Homo sapiens: one gene and its partner. The protein of the gene in region 2 interacts with the protein of the main gene of each other region in a pairwise test. Each region holds a gene or a part of one and is shown on either strand. Other genes may lie near its edges.

Region 1 (3,924 bases), on a different chromosome or scaffold from region 2:
ACCCTTCTCTGCCTCAAAAACCCCAGGAGGGATCCTTTGAGGTCCATCACATCACCCTTTCTTAAAATTATCCCAGATTTCCCTGCTCAGATGAAAGACAGGAATTCCCATAACTTTGTTCCTACCGCCTTCATGTCATTGATCTCATTCCACTTACTCTTTTAAAGTCAAAGCGCATCTCCCTTAGCTACCCAGTAAAGAAGGCATCATGGTAAGCAGCTTATCTCTCCAGTAGCAATAAGCTAACAACTGTCACATCACCAAATCTTAAAATAGTATTACTAATAATTGAAATATGTTAAATAAAACATGGATAAATGCAATCAGTGAAAACCTCATCAATCATCCCCATCTCCCACTTCAAATTTATTTAGCTATGAATTTAAGCAAAGTACAAATGGGTTGCCTCTCTTAAGCCAAAGAGAAATAATTTCTAAATTAGATAACACTTACAGCTTTCCATACACCTATAATAATGAAAGACTGAATATGCTGAAGATGAATTATGTCGAAAACCAACTACTTTTCTGTAGTTGACCATTTAACTTCACATAATACACTACAAATTTGAAAACACTTCAGATTTGTATTACAATCAATTAAGGAGGGGTTGAGAAAGGAGAGAGACGAAGAGAAAGACAGGAAGTAGACCAAAATATAGAAAAGGGACACGGATCTATACCAAATATCTGGCTGCTCTAAAAGTAAAAATATAATTAGATTCGTTTTTTAAGAAGATTAAACACTGGCAAGAATGCCTGTCTTAATCCTATCCAAACGCTGGAAGTTCTGTTCTCTTGTTACATAATCTTATTTTCATCCGAGGAAAAACTGCGGGTCTGGAATCTGATGTGATGAGGTGAGGAGGGAGCCCACTTTTAAATAGGACCGTCCCCATCCTGCAGTCTACTGGGACGCGGCGGCTTTAGATTTTAAAAAGTGTGCTGTATTTTTGCACTTACACTACAGAACTGGCTTTAGCCGAGGCCCTGCATCTAGACACACGCTGTGTCCACCAGAGAATTGCCTGGGCTGACAGACCTAAAGCTTCCGCAACCTCCTTAGGCTCCCTAGTCCACGCCGCTGCTCCCCGGGCTGAGCAGGGCTGGGACGCGCCGCACAGAACTCAGGGACCCCACCTCCCTGCGCATCTCCAGGGCCACGCTGGCACCTGCAGGAGTGCGGACTGTCCGCGGATCCCAGGCAGGGTTGGGTGGAGATTCGCAGCCAACCCACAGGAGTTCTGCCCTCCTCCCAGGCTTCTGGCCAGTGGAGTTGGAGAAGGGTCCCCGTCCTCGAGCCTGGGACACGCTCCGGGGCTCACAGAGACACTGACCCACACGTCCCCGTGGTTCGTAGCTCTGGGGGCGCTCCACTCCCTAGGTAATGCTCCCGACGGGGATCCCAACCCCGACCGCGCGGCAAGCCCGGGGTGTGGGGAGAGCCCACTGACCTGGGTACGGGGCCGAGGCTCCTCTCCGGGCGGCTCAGGTGTGCGGGCCGCTCCCGTGTCCCTCCCACCTTCAAACATGAGAGCCCAGAAGCGAGCGACGGGCCACTGGCCCACCGACCAACTGCCGGACCAAGCGCCCGACCAACCAGCGGACCGACCGCAGCGGCCGGGGCCGGCGCCCACGTGACGGGGCGGGGACCTGCGGAAGGCTCTTCCCGGAGCGCCGCGCCCCCACCCCGGGACCTGCCACAGGGACCACCCCCTTGGGCACCCGCTCCCTCTCGGGCACCGAAGAAGCCTGCTGGGACCCGTCCACCAGGGTTCCTGTTCCCGGGGGACCGGCCTGGTCAGCCCCGCCCCTTCGAACCTGCCTCGTCCCCACCCCCTGGGCCGCGCGTCCGGGCCCCAGCCCCGCCTCTCTCGGCGGACCGCGCCCCCTTCCGGGAGCCCCGCCCCGTTCGCCGCGCCTCCTCCTCCGCACAGCTCCGGTTGCGGGGAGGCCCGGGTGGGTACCCGGCGCTCCGGCTCCCAGTCTCCTGGGCTTCTCCAGTCCTTCAGCGCCGTTCTCCGGTCACAGGGAATGAAAGCGAGGAAGAAGGAAACGGTGTCGAGAATTGCGAAGAGAGAAAGCATAGAAAACCCACATTAGAGGCACTCCCAGAGCAGAAACCCTTCGGAGCATCCCGACTTCCTCGGCCCGCGTGCAATCCAGGCAAAATTGAGGTTGTCTCTGAGCCGCCCTCCCTAAGCAGGTCGGAAAGCCCCCGAATCATCCCAGGTCCCGCCGCGCTGCACTCGCAACCTGGGGTGGAGGTCCCTCTAGTGGTTGGCACCAAACAAAAGTTCTGTCTTATGAAGAGCCGAGGTCAGGAAGCATTTCCCTGTGCCCAGCGCCAAGGTCTGGGACCTTAGGTCCAAGAAAAGCGTTGGCAATGTCTGACCACAGGAATGGGTTCTCGAACTGGGGAGGACTGAAGCTGGAGATCTGGTCCAGCCCCTACCTCCAGCGTGTGGCCTGAACCCGTTTTGGTTGTACTGCTATGTTGTGGCCCTGCCCAGGCCTCCAAGGACTGGCTGCTGTTAAGCTGTTTAAAATCCCTGTAGGCCTCAGATGGCAGCGACACCAGGGACTCGGCATAGTCCCCAGCTCTGGCAGGAGTCACCACAGCCCTAGCCTTTAGTTCTCTACAGGCTGGAGTGTCGACAAACTCCACAGGACACAACTTTTTCAAACCAAATTTACCCTCGCGGTCTGAAATGACCAGTAGGCCCAGGAGAATTTTACATGTGAACAGAACCTAACCCACCCTGGCAAATATGAGACGTGTGGTCACTGCGGGAACCTGGCCAGCAGCAGACCAAAGCACAGCCAGCAGGGGAAGGCTGGGGCCCGCAAGAGTTGTGTTACAACAGGACACCCTTCAGTTCTCTTTCACTTCCTTAAAATAGCAGCAGAGCGACTTTTGTAGACGCAGGCTGCCACAGTTCACACAAGGTCATGGCTGTTTCCGAATCCCACCCTTTATTGCCCTAGCGGAGCCACTCCCCTTACCTCCGCCCCCAGAAACTGCTAGCCTGTTCTTAAATTGATACAGTTACCTTTTTAAATGTTCTAAGTCACCGGCTCTGGAGCTTCTTTGCACTTTGGAACCAACTTGCGGGAAGGAACTTTAAAAATACTGATATCTCGATCCATCCCCAGAGGTTCTGATTTAATGGTCTTGGGGATATGGCCACGGCATGAGGACTGTTAAAACTCCGCAGGTGATTCTTATGTGCAACAAAGTTTAAGAACCACTGATGTAGGCCATGTCGATGTCAGTCTTCACTTAAATCCAACAAGACCCCAGAGCTAAAACGTTCACCTGAAAGAAACCCCATTCCCAGGCCTGCATACTGACCTGCGCTGGCTCACAAGAAGCAAAGTGGTCCCTTAACAGGGGCTTCCTGGAGAAAATGTCTTGACCTAAAAGAGTGATTCGAGCTGCAGGGATTTAAGGTAGGTACCAAGGTGAGTTGTTTGGGGCAGATGTGCCCTGCAGAGCTGTCAATCAAATCATATCCCAGGTGGAATCTAGACAGCACATTTCAGGCAACCTCCCCTCTGTGCCTCCAAAGGAACTATGGTTGCAGGACTCACTCCTATTGATAAATCTACCCCACTATCCTCTGTGAGGCAGCCCACATTCCTTCTATCTGTGAAATAGGTAGGTAATAGGGCAGGTAATATCACATTTATTTATTCATACCTGTCTCATTCCACAAAGGATTTGGCCTCTCTGTACCATTCTGTTAGAACTGTGGGTAATTACACTGTATCCATGGGTTGAGTAATTCCCTTCTGCCAAATATCTACTCAAATGCTATGGAAAAAAACATTTTCTCTTCACTGCCTATGGTCCCAGCCTGGGCTTGGCAAAGACAGGAAAACAGCTGCAAGCACACAAAGCAAACCTTCTCATGTGACCAAC
Region 2 (3,924 bases):
ATAAAACCATAGCTTCCAGCATGTTCCACATCCCAGAATATGGTGACAGACTGGCAGACACAGACTTAAAGATAATCTGTGAAAGATACTATGCATGTATCTATTCTAGTATGAGATAATTAATACAGGTAGTTTCTTAAAGAAGTAATGAGATCTTCATTATTTGGATTACGATTCAAAGCAGAAGCTACACAAATCAGTGTAAAATTGATTTTACACTGTTCTGCAAGCTTAAGCCATTTAAGATTGGCTTAAATGAATTTCTTCTCAGGTAATCATTGCTGAAACTCACTTTGAACCAACAGTATACCCACTCAAGAAAGCACCACGATAACTCAGTGTAAAGGGAATGTGACAGATGCATGTAAAGTACTTTTCAGCACAGCACTCTCCTCCTAAAGTCAATAAAAACAATTTATTCCAAGTAATGTAATGATTTATATACTCATATGCAACTTTCTGTTTATAATGAGCATCATTGTTAGAAGCAGGGAATACAAGGAAGGGACTTTTAAGGACATAAATGACTTTTATATTCTAAATTTATTTAATAGGTGTACACAGATTTATCTTATAGAAAAAACATCATCTGTACTCTAAATTCCAAAACAGTAGAAGAAAATAAATTCTATACATATATTTGATGTCTAGCCTGTGGAATTTTTATGTGCCTCGAATTTGCTTATAATTATGAATCTTTACCACCCATTTCCATTTGTTACTTAAGTATATATACAATCAAATATCACTTAATGCAGATATATGTTCTGAGAAATGAGTCATGAAACAATTTCTTCGTTTTGAGAGTACCATAGAGCATACTTACATAAACCTAAATGGTATAGACTACTGCACACCTAGGCTATGTGGTATAACTTATTGCTCCAGGGTACAAACCTGCACAGCATGATACTAAGCTGAATACTGTAGGCAAATGTAACACTGTGGTAAGTATTTGTGTATCCAAATATGTCTAAACATAGAAAAGGTACAGTAAAAATATAGTATAAAAGATAAAAAATGGTACACGTGAATAGGGCACTTAGTGAATACGAAGGCCTAGGACATTACTATATACTACTGTAGACTTTATAAACACTATACTTTATACTACACACAATTCATAAAAAAACCTTTTTATTTCCTCAGTAATAAATTAGCCTTAGCTTATGGTAACATTTGTAATTTATAAATCTTTTTTTTTGTTAACTTTTGACTCTTTTTAAAATAATACTTAGCTTAAAACACAAATACATTGTACAGCTGAACAAAATTAATATCTTTCTTTATATCCTTGTCCTATAAGCTTTCTGCTATTTCATTATTTTTTCCCCTCTTTAAGCTTTTTCGTTACAAACTAAGACACAAACACAAAAATCACTATAGGCCTACACAGGATCGGGACCATCAGTATCACTGTCTTTCATCTCCATATTCTGTTCCACTGAAAAGTCATTGGGGCAGTAACACACATGGAGCTGTCATCTCCTAGGATATCAATGCCTTCTTTTGAGATGCCTCCCAAGGAACCTACTTGGGGCTATTTTACAGTTAACTCTTTAAAAAACAAAAGTAGAGGGAGTACACTGTAAAATAATGATTTAAAAATCATGGTGTGGTAAATACATAAACCAATAACCCAGTCATTAATGATGATTATCAAGGGTTATGGGCTGCACATAGTTGCACGTGCTATACTTTTAGACGACTGGCAGTGCAATAGGTTTGTTTACACTAGCATTACCACAAACATGTGAATAATGCATTGCACTACGATGGTATAATGGCTCTGATATCACTAGGTGACAGGAACTTTTCAGCTCCATTATAATCATATGAGACCATTTGTTGTGCATGCACCCCATTCTTGACTACAATGTCGGTATGTAGTGCATGACTGTATATATGTATGTATATACATATATAAGATTTCACTTACATCAAATTATACTCATCAATTTATATGTAGTTACATTTGTTTTTAATACAGGAAAAGTTATGGTACTAGGTGAATGGCAGAAAAACCCAAAGTGAATTATGGTGATGACTTGTAATGTTTGGGTAACAACTTTGCTACACCAATTCTTTAAAGATTGGACCCTCCCCAAAACAAGTAGCAGATAATATATAGGATGTAAATTTCATTGATGTGCTTGGAAAACCTTGCAATGTTCATAAAGAAATGATGGAATTTGATGGCAAGTGGTTTCCAGGGGCCAATACCTTCAATGATATGCCTGATCTGTATGTTACTAAGTGGACTTTGGTTTCGAAACTGTACGTTATTAAGTGTATAGAACTAATACCAAGGGGTGTTTTATTTAGAAAGCAAATGGGACTTTATAATAGAATATTGCCTGCTAGAGAAAAAAAATTATTTTACACTATGTTCTTCTCTATAATGGTATCAGATACTGGTGGAGAATTAGGAAATATATGGATTTTATAATTTGACAGTTATTAGTGTGGCTAAAAAATACATTTTATTAAATTAAAAATAGCATTTCACTTCTTTCTCAGCTGCAAGAATTCAGGGACACTTACTATTTACTGAATCACACACAGTAAAAGGAATCTTTTGGGAAAAGCTGATGCTGGTTTCCAGATAAGTTACGATAATGCTTCCCGCTTTATATTGACAACCATTTTTTTTCCTTCAAAGGATATCGAGAATCAAAATTATGTGAAGGAAATTTTGATAATAACACAACAAAGTGCATGTGCCATTGTTTTCTGAGTAAAAAATTAAAATTACATTATTCTACAGTTCAAATTTAATCAGTTCACCGTTATTACAAAAATTGATCTGATAGCCACATACCATTGAAATGCAAATTTTGATGATGCTCTTTTTCTGATTAATAATTGCAGAAATGTCATTTTAAATCTACATCCCCAAGAGCTTCACAGAATGCCTCTTTCTAGTTAATCTTTTTGAGTAGAAGAAACAGGGAGCTCTGAGCAAACCAGCCATGCTGTCTCTTTCATGCACACGGTAGGGGCAAGGGCACTGTGGTATTGCTGTGTTGCTGTTAACTCACAGAGGTGCTGCCTTTCTTCTTTACCACTGCTTGCCTCCCATGGATTCCTCTGCTTCCCTCTGGGCCTCCTCACTAGCCTTCAGGCAACGTTTGGGTGACTCATGAAGAAATGGAAAATCTTGCAGCTCCAGCAAAAACGGTTAGTCTTAATGGCTTTGTTGAACCTGAAGGAAAGTGACTTTGCTGCTCTTTGGATGAGGAAACTAATCTGTTTACAATAGACCAGAGTAATAGGGTGTGTTTTTATAGTTACATGCAATGATAACTAACATTTTTTACAGTTTTCTTTTACTGCACTCTCTTGAAATTTTTTAATGAAATAGTGTTAGATTGTGGCTAATATCATAAGAGCTTATAGTACACAAACAATAAGGAAGAAAGTAATAAATAGTATTCATGTTGCAACATTGGAAGTTTTTGTAACAAATATTTAGTATTGGACATATTCACAGGTAACATGTTTCTAAACCAAATTAAATTGGTAATAGAAAAGATTAGATTGAATATTCATTTTTAATATGATCATGTGGTTTCTTGTGCTTTACCATCTTAGATACAAGCTTGACCAAAAAAACCCCCAAAAAACCAAAAAAGTGTTATGTTAATTTGGTACTGAAAAGCACAATTTTAAAGAATTTCTTGGGGACTCTTTGTCACTTTTAAAAATAAAATGCTATAAAAATCATTTTTTCATGTAAAGTAACAAAGTTGGGCATATCATATATTTTATCTTTATCAACTTCTTTTTAATTTAATGTCTTTTCAGTGTTATCCTTATTTGAAAATTGATTATCTACAAGTTTGTTAAGGATAAAAACACCAATGTCATGTACTAATTTCATTTTTAGTTTAGTTTTGTTGTACTTGGTTTTTGTCTTGTTTT

What was found.
Region 1: the proteins of PPFIA2 (region 2) and PPFIBP2 interact in a two-hybrid assay, tested with the Homo sapiens proteins (one study listed by BioGRID).

Annotation. Positions count from the first base shown.
Region 1 is NC_000011.10:7,511,651-7,515,574, reverse strand, and holds the start of PPFIBP2 (liprin-beta-2), read right to left. Parts: upstream 1,535-3,924; 5' UTR 1,458-1,534; coding exon of another isoform or gene 970-1,457; intron 1-969. Other genes in the region: leucine-rich repeat extensin-like protein 5, read left to right, coding at 970-1,457, 1,535-2,365. UniProt on the Homo sapiens protein: May regulate the disassembly of focal adhesions. Did not bind receptor-like tyrosine phosphatases type 2A.
Region 2 is NC_000012.12:81,283,497-81,287,420, reverse strand, and holds part of PPFIA2 (liprin-alpha-2), read left to right. Parts: intron 1-3,117; coding exon 3,118-3,180; intron 3,181-3,924. UniProt on the Homo sapiens protein: Alters PTPRF cellular localization and induces PTPRF clustering. May regulate the disassembly of focal adhesions.